Homo sapiens: one gene and its partners. The protein of the gene in region 2 purifies or fractionates together with the protein of the main gene of each other region. This does not show direct contact. Each region holds a gene or a part of one and is shown on either strand. Other genes may lie near its edges.

What was found.
Region 1: the proteins of PI4K2A (region 2) and TXNRD2 purify together in Homo sapiens (affinity purification with mass spectrometry; one large-scale study listed by BioGRID and IntAct). This does not show direct contact.
Region 3: the proteins of PI4K2A (region 2) and AP1S2 purify together in Homo sapiens (affinity purification with mass spectrometry; one large-scale study listed by BioGRID and IntAct). This does not show direct contact.
Region 4: the proteins of PI4K2A (region 2) and ALDH1A1 purify together in Homo sapiens (affinity purification with mass spectrometry; one large-scale study listed by BioGRID and IntAct). This does not show direct contact.

What each region holds. Positions count from the first base shown.
Region 1 is NC_000022.11:19,914,319-19,917,818, forward strand, and holds part of TXNRD2 (thioredoxin reductase 2, mitochondrial isoform 5 precursor), read right to left. Parts: intron 1,526-3,500; coding exon 1,447-1,525; intron 959-1,446; coding exon 896-958; intron 1-895. UniProt on the Homo sapiens protein: Involved in the control of reactive oxygen species levels and the regulation of mitochondrial redox homeostasis. Maintains thioredoxin in a reduced state. May play a role in redox-regulated cell signaling.
Region 2 is NC_000010.11:97,668,171-97,671,670, reverse strand, and holds part of PI4K2A (phosphatidylinositol 4-kinase type 2-alpha), read right to left. Parts: intron 1-3,500. UniProt on the Homo sapiens protein: Membrane-bound phosphatidylinositol-4 kinase (PI4-kinase) that catalyzes the phosphorylation of phosphatidylinositol (PI) to phosphatidylinositol 4-phosphate (PI4P), a lipid that plays important roles in endocytosis, Golgi function, protein sorting and membrane trafficking and is required for prolonged survival of neurons.
Region 3 is NC_000023.11:15,844,814-15,848,313, forward strand, and holds part of AP1S2 (AP-1 complex subunit sigma-2), read right to left. Parts: intron 1,199-3,500; coding exon 1,090-1,198; intron 704-1,089; coding exon 566-703; intron 1-565. UniProt on the Homo sapiens protein: Subunit of clathrin-associated adaptor protein complex 1 that plays a role in protein sorting in the late-Golgi/trans-Golgi network (TGN) and/or endosomes.
Region 4 is NC_000009.12:72,925,554-72,929,053, forward strand, and holds part of ALDH1A1 (aldehyde dehydrogenase 1A1), read right to left. Parts: intron 3,469-3,500; coding exon 3,339-3,468; intron 1,625-3,338; coding exon 1,563-1,624; intron 60-1,562; coding exon 1-59. UniProt on the Homo sapiens protein: Cytosolic dehydrogenase that catalyzes the irreversible oxidation of a wide range of aldehydes to their corresponding carboxylic acid.

The DNA of each region.
Region 1 (3,500 bases), on a different chromosome or scaffold from region 2:
CATAATAGCTAAAAAGTGGAAATAACACATGTGTTTATCCAAGCAAGTAGATAAACAAAGTGTGGTCTATCCATACAATGGAATAGTATCTAGCCATAAAAAGGAATGATACTGACACACACTACAATGTAGGTGAACCTGGAGGATGTTATGCTCAGTGAAGTAAGCCAGTCACTAAGGGACACACACATACGAGTCACTAAGGGACACACACGTACCAGTTACATGAGAAGGACTTACATGTACGATTTCACTTACACGAGGTGCCTAGTGTTGTCACATTCATAGAGACAGAAAGTAGGTGGTGGTTTCTAGGGGCTGGGGGAGGAGGCGCTGGGGAGTAGGGTTTAATGGGAATAGTTTCAGTTCAGGGATGATGGAAGGAGTTCTGGCAATGGATGGTGGTGACTGATGGCCGCACAGCTCTGTGAATGTACTAAAAACCACTGAATTGTACCCTAAAAAAGGCTAAATTTTATAGCGTGTGAATTTTATTTCAAACTTTTTTTAAACTGGGGGACGTGAAGGAGGAAGATGAAGAATGAGGCTTATATCCTGAATGTTCCAACATTCTGAGGCTGAAGGGAAAAGGGGGAATCAGCAATGGAGACTTAGGAAGCAGGATCCTGGTGTGGAAGGGGACAGATCCAGCGGGGCAGGGGGAGAGCAGAACGAGAGCTGTCCTGAGGATCTGGCAGCGTGGAGGCCACTGGGGACCCCACATTTCAGCAGTGTGGATTCAAGAGAATTGGAAAGCAGAAAGTGATGATAGTGAGTATAGGGGGAAAGGGTGTGCAAGCTGCTGCTGTGGGAAGCACGTGTGTAAAAACGTATCCCTCAAAGAGGCCGGGAATGGGCCACGGCAGCAGGGACGCTATGCTCTGGGGACACTCACGTGCGTGGGGTATCTCGGCCGCCCTCCAGTAGCAATGATGATGTGATCGGCTGACAGCAGAATCTGAGGAGAAAAAGAGAAAGCCGTGGGTCAGACAGGTGCATGGTGATCACCCCACCGGAGGGCCTGAGCACCACAGACCTTGGCCAGCAGTTCCCACGGCCCCTGCCCTGTAGCGTGGACCCTTGGCCAGCAGTTCAGAGGCCCTATGGAGCTGGAATCCCATCAACCATCAGCCTGGCAGGAGGGGGACAGGCAGAAAGCACAGGGAGATGTTCTAACTCCAAGCACTTCAAGGCACCCTCAAATCCCCAAAAAATCCTGCAAAAAGGGTGTGGTCACCAACCCTGTTGCCATGCCACTCCGAGCAGCAGGGCAGCAAATTATTTGATCACGTTAAAGACAAGTGCCCAGCCTCAAAAGAAGCCACCTTTTTGATTCCAGCAGCACGTGTTACTAAGAACAGCACCCAGGCCAAACACAGCTGCAGTTGGTGCCCAAGGTCTGCAGAAGGGTCCACAAGGAGCCACGCGAGTAAGTCAGATGCTCACCTCTTTCCCACCTTTGGCAACGCCGCAAACCGTGTGCTCGTCAACAAAGCTGGCTTTGATGTTAAAGTACTTGACTTTTCTGAAAGATAAAGATAAGATTTTCAAACACTTCCTCTGCAAATTAAACCTCACCAACTGGATCAATAGGGAACACTGGTAAAAGGGAGCTCCAGCCCCCAGCAGGGCCTGGTGCTGTGGCTCAGATGGACCAAGAGGTAAGCGGCAACCATGCTGAGAAGCATGGAGGGGATGTGGGGGCACCTCGCCTGTCCCCCAGGGATCCCAGGGACATGTTAACCACAGGTGTCAAAGCAGGGACGGAAGCCAGCTCAGCACGGTCCTAAGAGGCCACGTACAGCCCTGGTGTGCAGCAAGAGGTGGCTGGACCTCTCTTGGGGACAGTCCTCATCACCCGGACATGTTCCAGCAGGGAGCTGTGGTGCCCACCAGATGGTGTCACCTTCTGATTTCAGGGGTGTGGTAACACCAAGAGAACGGGCATGACAAGGCTGGCAAAACAGTGGCTGGGAGCATAGTGCACAGAAACAAATGACCCACGCTTTCTTTTCTTTTTTTTTTTTCTGAGTCAAAGTCTCACTCTGTCGCCCAGGCTGGAGTTCAGTGGCACGATCTTGGCTCACTGCAATCTCCACCTCCCAGGTTCAAGCCATTCTCTTGCCTCAGCTCTTGCCTCAGCCTCCTGAGAAGCTGGGATTACAGGCTTGCGCCACCACGCCTGGCTAATTTTTGTATTTTTAGTAGAGACGGGGTTTCGCCATGTTGGCCAGGCTGGTCTTGAACTCCTGACCTCAAGTGATCCACCCACCTCAGCCTCCCAAAGTGCTAGGATTACAGGCATGAGCCACCGCGCCCCACCCTTTTTTTTTTTTTTAAAGACATCTTCTCACTCTGTCACCCAGGCTGGAGTGCAGTGGCATGATCATAGCTCACGGAAGCCTTGTTTCAAGTAACTGGAACTATAGGCATGGGCAACCATACCTGGCTAGTTCATTTTATTTTTTGTAGGGATGTAGCAATAAAACTATGTTGCTCAGGCTGGTCTCCAACTCCTGGGCTCAAGTGATCCTCCCACCTCAGCCTCCCAAAGTGCTAGGATTACAGGCATGAGCCACTGCACCCGACCAACACTTTCTAATGACAAAAGGACCGTGCTGCAGCAAGGGTTCTGGGAAGGCTCTGCCTCCTGCTTGAGCCTGCCTTCTCCCCACTGGCAAGCCTGTGCCTCTATGGGCTGTCTGAGCTGCGTGAAGTTCCTACAGCAAGAGCCCTTCAATCACCTCGACAGCCAGGAAGCTGCCACGGGACACAGCCGGGCAATGCTCATGGCAGCACTTTTCAGAAGAGTGAAAAAGCAGAAACAGCCCAGGTGCGCCCCAGCCTCCTTCTGCAGGTGGCTCCGGAGCAGGCAGTGGGCTGGGCCTGTTTGGTGCCCGTCCAGGAGCTGCCCAGGGCAGGGAGGAGGGAGGGCAGAGCCTGCTGTCCCCAGGAAACTGTACCAGGGGATACAGAGCCCCACAGAGAAACACAGAAATGCCACAGCACAATGTGGCTTAGCTCCCTGGATAGGGGAGAGCTTGTGAGGTCCAGGTGGAGGGCAAGCAGTTGGCTTCCTGGCTCCACTTTCCTGGATTTAGTGAGCACAAAACTGCTGCCTGCTGTGAAGCCCCAGGAAGACCCGCCCTGGGGCCAAGCAAATGGTGCATGAGGAGAGCCACCAGACCTCTGCGGGACCACTGTCCCCTCCACAGCCCCGGGAGAAAGGCTGGGCCAGAGGCGGTACCAGTTTCAGGCATCTGCTGTGCTGGCAGCTGAGCCCCAGGAGAAGGTTGTAGGCCAGGGGAGCATAGGCCTCTGTGCTGGAGATCCCCAGGGGCTGACAGGAACGGTGACCAAGTAGGGACATTTGCTCCAGCGGAAAGCACCAAGCTCCTGCACCCACACCCAAGGAGCTGGAGGTGTGCAGTAAGAAGGGGGTTCACGGGGTGGGGGCTTGCCACTGGGATGACCCTCACCACATATTAGCCCCAGGCCTA
Region 2 (3,500 bases):
AAGACTCCATCTCAAAAAAACAAACAAACAAACAAACAAAAAGTAAAAAGCCAACATTTTATTTGGATTCTCCTTCTAACACTATCTCTTCATCACCTTTTTTTTTAAATAAATGTTTTACTTTGGAATAATTTTAAATTTAGAGAAAAGTTGCAGATTGTACAAAGAGTTCCTATATAGCATTTGCCCAGTTTCCCCTAATTTTTTTTTTTCTTTTCTGAGACAGGGTCTCACTCTGTCACCCAAGCTGGAGTACAGTGACACATTCATAGCTCACTGCACCCTCCAACTTCTGGCCTCAAATGACCCTCCCAATTTGGCCTCCCAAAGTGTTGGGATAACAGGCATGAGCCACTGAGTCCAGTCCTCACCATCTTTTGTCAGTATTTTACAGGTATTTCAGTTATGTGTCCATGAGGACACAGTTTCTCCTCTTTGTCAAAATTAGTATCACCACCATTTATCTTCTCTGGTAGGAGAGTACAAAAGCTGAAGGTGTCCTGTCTTCTCTCTCTCTCTCTTTTTTTTTTTCTGAGACGGAGTTTCGCTCTTCTTGCCCAGGCTGGAGTGCAACGGCACAATCTCGGCTCACAGCAACCTTCACCTCCTGGGTTCAAGCGATTCTCCTGCCTCAGCCTCCCGAGTAGCTGGGATTACAGGCATGCACCACCACACCCAGCTAATTTTGTATTTTTAGTAGAGATGGGGTTTCTCCATGCTGGTCAGTCTGGTCTCGAACTCCCAACCTCAGGTGATCCACCCGCCTCGGCCTCCCAAAGTGCTCGGATTACAGGCATGAGCCACCACGCCTGGCCCTATCTTCTTTAAAACACTAGATGTTGAAGATTTCATGGCCAGGTCACAGAACATGGAGGGGTAAGCTAGGCTGCACCCTGAAATCACACAGACACACAGCCCTCAAGCCACAAATATCCTCTTACACAACTGCTGCCTATAAAGGAGCAGAGATACAACTGCAACAGGGGTCATTTGTTACCCTATTGGTAACAAATTTCTTTTTTACTTAATTGTTTTGGTACTTGCCAGCATCCTACACTGTTCCAAATAGTCTGAAGCACAATATTGGGGTGAAGAACTAAAAGGAGATTGCGGGAGTATCTGGGGTAAACATGTCAAATTGTCTACTACTTATTTTCAAAAGATTTGGCAAAAAAGAATATCTAGGGAGAGAAATTAAATAGATATTATTCAGATACATCACTGGATAATACGTAGACATATGAGATAAATGTGGTTAAATATAACAACTGAAGAATCTAGAAGATCCCATTCTTTCAACTTTACTGAGGTTTGAAAATTTCCAAATTAAAAAGCTGAAGATAAGCCTGGAACCAGGACTGAAAAGAAAGGAGAATAAAGAATTTAAAAAGAAAAATTATTTTTTAAATTTGAAGAAAAATTATAGCAGTCACATAATACTAAAGAATAAATACTATCTTTGAAAATGTTGGGCTGGATGTGGTGGCACATGCCTATAATTTCAGCACCTTGGGAGGCCAAGGCAGGAGGATCGCTTGAGGCCAGGAGTTTGAGACCAGCCTGGGCAACATAGCGAGACCCCACCTCTTAAAAAAAATTACCCAGAAATGGTGGTGCATGCCTGTGGTCCCAGCTACTCAGGAGGCTGAGGGGGGAGGACTTCTTGAACCTAGGAGTTCAAAGCTGCAGTGGTCTACAATTGGGCCACTGCACTCCAGCCTAGGTGACAGAGCATGACCCTGTCTTTAAAAAAAAGAAAAGAAAAAGAAAATGTTACAGAGGCTTTCTCTCAGACCCTAGATTCTTTAACTCCCGGTGAGAAGCCTTTAAGTTGAGTAACAACTTCTATCACCTGACTGTGTCCCTGTGGGGCCTCTTCACTCTTTCCCTACATCTCAGGGCCCTTGTACTACAGCCCATCCTGCAATAATGGCTCAGCTATGTAGACAGGGTTATGACCTCTTTTCTCTGTGCTTTGTCAGATTTCTGTAGTGCAGAAATTTTGTAGTGCACACATTTTGCTTTGATGTGTGAATGGTAGACAAGTAAGCACATGAGTGATATACTGGCCATGTACATGTTGGAAGGAGCTGGATGGTCACCCTAAGGTAGTAGGCACTTTAGGTTACAAGATACCAAAAGCTCCTCTGAAGACATTAGGAGCACAAGATGGAGATAAATAAAACTGCACTACCCCAACCTCCCTACCATCCTGAATAATGGCACTATCTGAGTAATGGGAGAAGGGTTGGCAAGGGACTGAGCTGGGATGGAATTAGATAAGACATTGCAATACGGACAGAGGCACAGCCTATATCAACTGGAGAAGCCAGTTTACTCCTTTATGCTGAGTTCCATAACATCTGAGTCTATCACATGGCTTTTAATGCTTCCAAAAATTCTGCCAGCCTAATTGGGCCCTTACATTACTTGGGAAATGTAGGAATACCATGTTACTGGTATTCAGACAGCTACAATAATTGTAGTTCTTAAAACCTCTGTCCAGGCCGGGCTCAGTGGCTCACTCCTGTAATCCCAGCACTTTGGGAGGCCGAGGCAGGCAGATCACCTGAGATCAGGAGTTTGAGACCACCCTGGCCAACATGGTGAAACCCCATCTCTACTAAAAATACAAAAATTAGCCAGGTGTGGTGCCATGCACCTGTAATCCCAGCTACTTGGGAGGCTGAGGCAGGAGAATCACTTGAACCTGGGAGGTGAAGGTTGCAGTGAGCCAAGATCGCACCACTGCACTCCAGCCTGGGTGACAGAGTGAGACTCTGTCTCAAAAGAAAAAAAAAACCTCTGTCCAACCCCCTTCCAGGGAAAAATGGGCTCAGCAAACCCAGGAGGTGCTGTCATCAGAGGTCTTTAGATAAATGGCAGGAAGAAGTAAATGCAGAATTAAGGCTGAGAAGATCCTCTTGCCCTTTAAAGATGGGAGAAGCTGAATTTTCTGTATACAAAAATCATAATCCTAACAGCTATTAATACTACAAATTGAGTATTTTAGTATACCAGGTACTACTCTAACTGTTTCAAATCATTTATCTCATAATAATTCTGTAAGGTGGGTACCATTATTATTATCTTGAGACAGGTTCTCACTCTGTCCCCTAGACTGGAGTGCAGTGGTGCCATCTCAGCTCACTGCATCCTAGACCTCCCAGGCCCAAGCAATCCTTCCACCTCAGCCTCCTGAGTAGCTGGGATTACAGGCGTGCGCCACCACACATGGCTAATTTTTGTGTTTTTTGTAGAGATGGGGTTTCACCATGTTGCCCAGGCTGGTCTCCAACTCCTTAGCTCAAGTGATCTGCCCACCTAAGCCTCTCAAAGTGCTGGGATTACAAGTGTGAGCCACCATGCCTGGTCTCAGCTACTATTATTGATCCCACATTAAACATGAGGAAACTAAGGGAAGGAGAGATTAAGTAACTTGCCCAAAATCTCACAGGTAGTAAATGGCAGAGCCAGGCTTCAAAAACCCAGGCACTGTG
Region 3 (3,500 bases), on a different chromosome or scaffold from region 2:
AGCAAAGAGAAATGCAAATACTGTTTAGTTTTGCTAACAAAAAAAACCTGGAAGTTTCTACAAAAAGTATAATTAGAAAACACTATCATTTGCTTGGCTACTTTTGCATTTAATGGACATGAGGTAAAAATATGAGCCAATTTGGAATTAAAATGTCATAATCTCATAGTCAACTCCTGATTATCTACACTAATGAAAAAGGGGGTTATCTTAAACAATTTGAAGCAATAGATGGAGAGTTCTCAACTTACTGCTACTTTCAGCCAATCTTTTCCCTTCTTCAAATAGTCTGTCCTCTAAAGGTTTAGACTCCAGTGTTTTAGGGTCCAAAAAGGGCCATTGGGAAGAGGCCTGACCGATAGACCATCTCCAAACTGAACCATCCATCCATAGATAACTGAGTTGACGTGACTGACACATATTCCAGTCAATAAACTGCACATGGATGGACACTACATGACAAGCATGCTTCAGAGTACTTTCTGAAACTGTAAGAATGATGAATGAGACTTCCCCAGCAAGAGCAAAACATGCTAGTGCCTAGTGAAGAGAATAAGTAGCTTACCTCCTGCAGTAGATCAGCCTGCTCAATTGCTTTAAGGACATTTTTCTTGGATGTTTCCTGAACTTCCCCTCCCAAAAGAAACTCATCCAAAATAAAATAAGCCTTCTCAAAATTAAAGATGATATCTAGTTCACAGACCTGAAAAGGAAAAAAAAAAGAAAAAAGAAAAGAAAAAATTGTTAAAACTTGCAGAAGCAGAAGATGCTTATTCACTATCAGGTAGTGAATAAAATCGAACTAGAGTGAATCAATCTTAACTCTTTCTAAAAATGACTAAGTATCACTGGTTTAAGTAAGCTTAATTTCCAAATCTCAAGTACTTGAAAACATATTCCTACAAGCTAAATAAGACTGGGCTCTGCATGTTCCCAATATGGACAACTTAATAATTTCTACTAATAAATAGTCATTCCCACCCTCTCCCGCGGTTAGAATCCCCAAGACAACCAAAAAATAAACTTGTTAGAGAAAAGGTTCCAAAATATACTATGGCATTCAATTTCCTAAAATAAAATACTACTCACACTGCCGAAATACTTGTCAAGTAATTCCACATAACGATGAATTATTTCCAGGGTAATTAGTTCATTGTCCTGATCCTCAATAGCACAGCAAAAATACAGACTAGCATATCTGTAACAAAGTACAAATGTGAAAAAAACTGTTATCCTATAATGATGTTTTCTAAATATATTTTCATATCCTATTATGAAAAGCCCCAAGTTTATACAGTTTATTTCTTCTTTCACGACAGTACAGATTTTTCTCATAGACTACAAAAGTAATAAACGCATAACAGAAATTTTGAAAAGCATAGGCAAGTATAAAGAAAAAATCAAAATAATCATACCACTTAGAATAAGTGATTTTGCCCTTCTTCCTTTCAGGTTCTTTTCTATAAGCATTTTAAAACATAGCAGACCCAGGTTTTTCCTAAGTTTACTTAATTAAAACAAAATATATAGCAGATTAATTCAAACTGTAAGTACAGAGAAGAAAACAAACCTTCCAACTGAAGGAGGACTTGTTGAGGATAATGCCAAGGTGAGGTCAATATTTTGGGATATTTTATTGGAATATGTATAATATATACACAGAGAAGACCTTAAGTCCTACAAGCTCAATAAATTTTCAAAGTGAACTCAACTATATATCAGCACCCACATCAAGAAGCTGAACACTACTGAACCCTGAAACTCCTCTGCTACCCTCTCCCAGTCACAACCTCCCACCCCCAAGGGTAACTATGCTCTTGACTTCTAACAGAATAGAATTGTTTTTAAAAAGGTTTCTAGGATTGCAGAATAAACCATACGAAAAGAACAACAGCTCCACGTTATTACAGAAGTTAGAGAAAGAGAACAGAAAGTTCCTATCACTTAAGGGAAACAGAGGCCTGTTCTCAAATTTACCAAGTTCTACACTGTTGAACTGAAGTGTAGTTTATTTACCCTAGAAGAGGGAATAAGGTTGGGAAACTTATATTCTCCTTCAAATTAGGATTCTAGCATATGGAATCATGTTATGCTTGACCCAAGGAAGCAAAACTTCAACCCTGAGGCATAGCAAGTCCTTTGAGGAGGATTAAAAGGGCATTTTAAAATGGTTTACATGTACTTAAGGCTTTTGAAAAGAAAGAAAATAAAAACCTAAGATAGGCTAAACACAGAACATTTCAGTGGAGATTATAATTTTCACTGAAGATCACTTAAATGATTTTTAGAAAACACAATGGGCAGTTACTGCTCGTAGCATTAATGTAAAATAATACTGTATACAGAATAACACAACCTGTTTTGAGACTCAATGAATTCTTGCTCCTTAGTATGAAAATAACTAGTATTCACACAACAGCATTAATTTCATTATTAAAACCATTTCATCTTATTTGATGTTTTCAACAGCAAGTACTATCTTTCATCCTTGATCACAGATTAAAAAAAGACAAAAAAAAAATGAGGCTTAAGAGTACAGCGCCTACAAGTGCTAGTACTGGGATAAGAAACCTGATCTTTTGACCTTAACTCCAGGCCTTTTTCCACTGTATCATACAAACTCACTTGGCATATATATCATGAGTTTGTGCATGTCTACTCTACCTGACTTCCACACTCAGTAAGTTATTTAAAATGGTGGAGCTACTGCAGTCTTATTGAGAGGAGGTATTCACATGTGTTCATTTATCATCATTGTGAAGGGAATAAGTCATGGAAGACAAAACAGGGCATCAATGCCAACTTTAACAAAGTGCTCCCTCTCTTTCCCATCGTTACTGTTTTTGTTTGTCTATTTAAAAGAGAATAGAGTATTCCAACTCTCCATCCTCCCTAACCCATGCTCATTAAATAGAACTTTGAATTTGAGGAAACTGATAAATGACACATAAGATTCCCTGATTTAAGAAAACTAAACATTAAAGGGACTGACATAAAAATGGTAGATTAAAAACCAGATATGACTAGCTGATAGGAACAGAATGCTAAATAATTTATTATACAAAGTTTACTAACAGTTTCAAGTAAAATTCCTTTTATTTAAGATTTCCTCATGCTACTATTAAACAAGCTAATGCTCGTACCATCCTCGCTCCTTATCCACAGTACTGCCTCTTTACTTACAAATAAAAAGCACTTAAACACTAGTCAAAGGTCCTAAACTGCATGAATCACTTGGAAGCATTAATTTAAAAATCATCAGAAACAATGTGTCTAAGCCCCAGCCAGTAATGTTTACTTTCACTCGGAATGGAAAAAGAATAATCAAATTAATGAATTCTTTGGTGTAGGTGAACAGATAGCTATCAGGATAATAATGTACCTCTTTCCAGAAAGCTTAGGGCAGGAAAAAAACAGAAACATAATAATTAAGTACCATTCACTGAATCCTCGCCCTACATGAGACATTAAATGTTAGCTAAGGCTTTTGCATATTTTAC
Region 4 (3,500 bases), on a different chromosome or scaffold from region 2:
TTTCCACAGCTCAGTGCAGGCCCTATCTTCCAAATGAGCATAACCAACGGGAAATTCCACTAGAAAGCAATATGTAACAATAGATTCTTTGTATTGCAAAAGGCATATTTGCTAATCCAACTTCCATATTATACACCCCCTGTAGATGTTATGTAATAATTGCGTAGTTTTGTGAAATCATCTGGCATATTATACTTCATTGCTAAAAGCAACTAGTAAATGCTAAAACGCTCTGAATAAACCAGATATGAGATATGAGAAGGAAATAGGAGAGAACCTCAAAATTTAATCAAGTACTGTTGAGTTCTTTTTCTACCAGGAAAAAAAAAATCACTGCATGGTTTGGCTTATTATGGAGCACACTGTAAGTTATCTAAAAATGTTTAAAAAGGATGATTACTCTCCTTCTCCATAAGTCATTTATTGTAATTATTTACCCAATAATATTATTTAGTAGCTTTTATTTCCAGGAAAAATACCTTGCTAAAGACAAAGATGTCCAGGGTCCAGAGGCCAAGTACTTGGGTTCAAATCTCAGCTCAATCACTGACCAGCCATGTGAACTCACACAGGTTACGTGCTCTCTGTATCTGATTTCATAATCTGTGAGTGCTGATAATAGTCCTCTCTGCCTCAGAAGGCTGTCTTGAGCATTAACCAAGAAAGAGGGCCAGGGGCTCAACACAATGACTGGTCTAGCATAGACAAGTAGTACATATCAGCTATTATCAGTGTTCATAATTATATAGTTTTTATCGATTTATTGGGACTTTTGAATTAATAAGCAATTTCACTAAAATATTGATATGAATATATTTCAATCTCATTGGAGCCAAAGATAAGTCTTGACCATTTCTTCACATAAGGACTTCGCTACCATTTTTTTGTTTGGCCTTTTAAAGCATGTCAGTTAAAATAAAATCATTTAGATAGTGTCCTGTTTGTTGGGCTTAAAAAATCTTCACAATCCTCTTAAAAAGGCTACTTTCCTCTAAGAGTAATATGGAGGATCTGAGCCTCTTATCTAAAGGTAAAATATATTCCATGCAGTGCTTCAAATGCCTCTGGTATTCTTTTTTCCATTTTGATTAAAAAATGTGTGTCATGAGTTGAACACTCTGGGAGCTACTGTTCTGCATGATGAGATGTCTCAATGAGAAAGTGCGTTGGAGAATAGTAGGCCCCACTACATTCCACCAAAATGCTATCCTGCAGATGTGCAGTGGAGAGCACCTTGCCATATACATGTAAAGCTTGGCTCTTATAAAGAGTACATAATACAACTTTTAATAAAACAACCCATAGAGTAAAGGGTTAACATTTATGGATGATGTAGTATTAAAACATTCTCAAGAGATATGCCAGAATATAGATAGGTTTTCGGACTACCTAATTCATATGCAAGAAGTTTAGTCACAGGGAGACCAAGTTCAACAAATCTTACATTTACTCCACATTTAACAAATACATAAGCATCCATCTGTTTTAGAGAAAGCTTCATCATTAGATAGAATAAGAACTCTTCTTTTTAAAATTGAGAATTATATAGGAGAAAAGCTTACAGGAATGATTTGGCCACATACACCAATAGGTTCATGTCTTGTATATGTAAAAAAATTTCCATCTGAAAAATAAAACACACACAATCATATATAAACAAATGTATTTGACATTCACAAAATGGTGGTTGGTGATGTGAGAGAAAGGTGTAGACAATAATTTTAAAAACATATATCTGGCCAGGTGTGGTGGCTCACGCCTGTAATCCCAGCACTTTGGGAGGCCGAGGCAGGCAGATCACGAGGTCAAGAGATCGAGACCATCTATATCTCCAACTATTCCCAAAATGGTAAGTGAAGCCCTAAAATAGTAATTCGAAATGATAGGAACCATAAAATTGAGTTAGGTGAAATCAAAGAGGCAAAATTGGCAAAAATCTGAAAGATAATTAATTCCACCTTTCATCTTCTAGGAGGCCTGATTTGAAAATTATCTTTATTCTCTAAGTGTTATAAAAAAGGGACGAGAAAGGAAGTAGGAGGTCTCTGGCGAAGAGAAGAACCACATTCCAATTTGTTTCTGGTAGCTCAAAGTTCTACCAATAAGAGAATTCTTTTTAAAAGTTATAATATAATTTTTAGAAATAGTAAAATTAAAAACAGTAGAATTAAAAAGAAAATCTCCCTATGAGTAATAAGCCTTTCCTACTGACTTGTTCTAAAATGTATTTTATTTGCCTACCAAACAATAATAGCAAATTCTCTAAATACATGAAGAAAATGACAGGAGTATAAGACATTTATTTTCAATCTAAATTTGACCAATTTATGTGCCCCGAAGTTTAATGTGGTCATCCAGAGAGATACATTATGCTTTACATTCAATTCTGTTCTAGTTCCCACAGAAGCTTCCTGGTTTCAGCAAGGACTCTCTTCATCAAGATCTATTTGTGTTTTAAGTGACTTCTCCCATTTTGTCCCGGAGTAAAGTAGGACAGTTCTAAAGTAGCCACATTTCTTAGTACCACCGAGGTCTTACTCTCCTCTCAACTTTCTGCTATCACTTCTGACCTCCTGCATGCTCCAATTGGATTGGAAGTGCACATCAGGGCCAGTCCTGGAGGGTATTGTATTCCTAAAGTTCATAGGTTTGCCTGAATTAAATTCCACCCATACTGTTTCCTAAATGTGTGTGTTTTCATGTTTCACATGAAATATCTTTAGTATTTCTACTCCATTATGTGCATACCCCACTAAAATAACACATACGTACAGATTCACACACACAAACCCTTAACTTAGGCTGCAAACACAGTCCCATCTTGCTTTGAAGATATTTGAAACGAGTCCGTGTGAACTGGCTTGTTTGATTAGTCTGGTCTAACTACACTGAGTTTGACCAGGCACAGATGACCATAACTGACTTATACTGGAACATGTAAAGAGGCTTAAATAATTACATTACAGAAAGGATATAAATGTCAGTATTGGAATAAAACCCAAATAAATAATTTCAGAGGTCAGCTTTAAAAAGTTTGGGACCTTAGAGAGGCAATTGCCTCAGATCAGTAATTACTGCCAAAGGAATGTTCTTACTTTGACATTTTCTAAAATATCTATAATGTTATCTTCATGATTATGCTGAAACAACTTTAAAAGACCTTTTATGAATTTTAATAGAACTTCTAAGTTGAAAACTGTGTTGTCTCAAAGTCAAGAGGAAAATAATTTTGCCTTATTTGGTTGACATCTTTAAAAGGGAGAGTTTGAAATTATTCAGCTCTATAGTAAACTCCTCGCTCCTATCCTCACCATTAGTGGTTTCTCAAAGATACTTACCAATTGGTATTGTACGGCCCTGGATCTTGTCAGCCCAACCTGCACAGTAGCGCAATGTTTTGATGCAGCCTGCTAAATCATTCAGATATGCATTGGAATAGAGTTTTCCACCATTCATTGACTCCATTGTCTGAAAAACATGTCAAACACCAAATCTAAAAT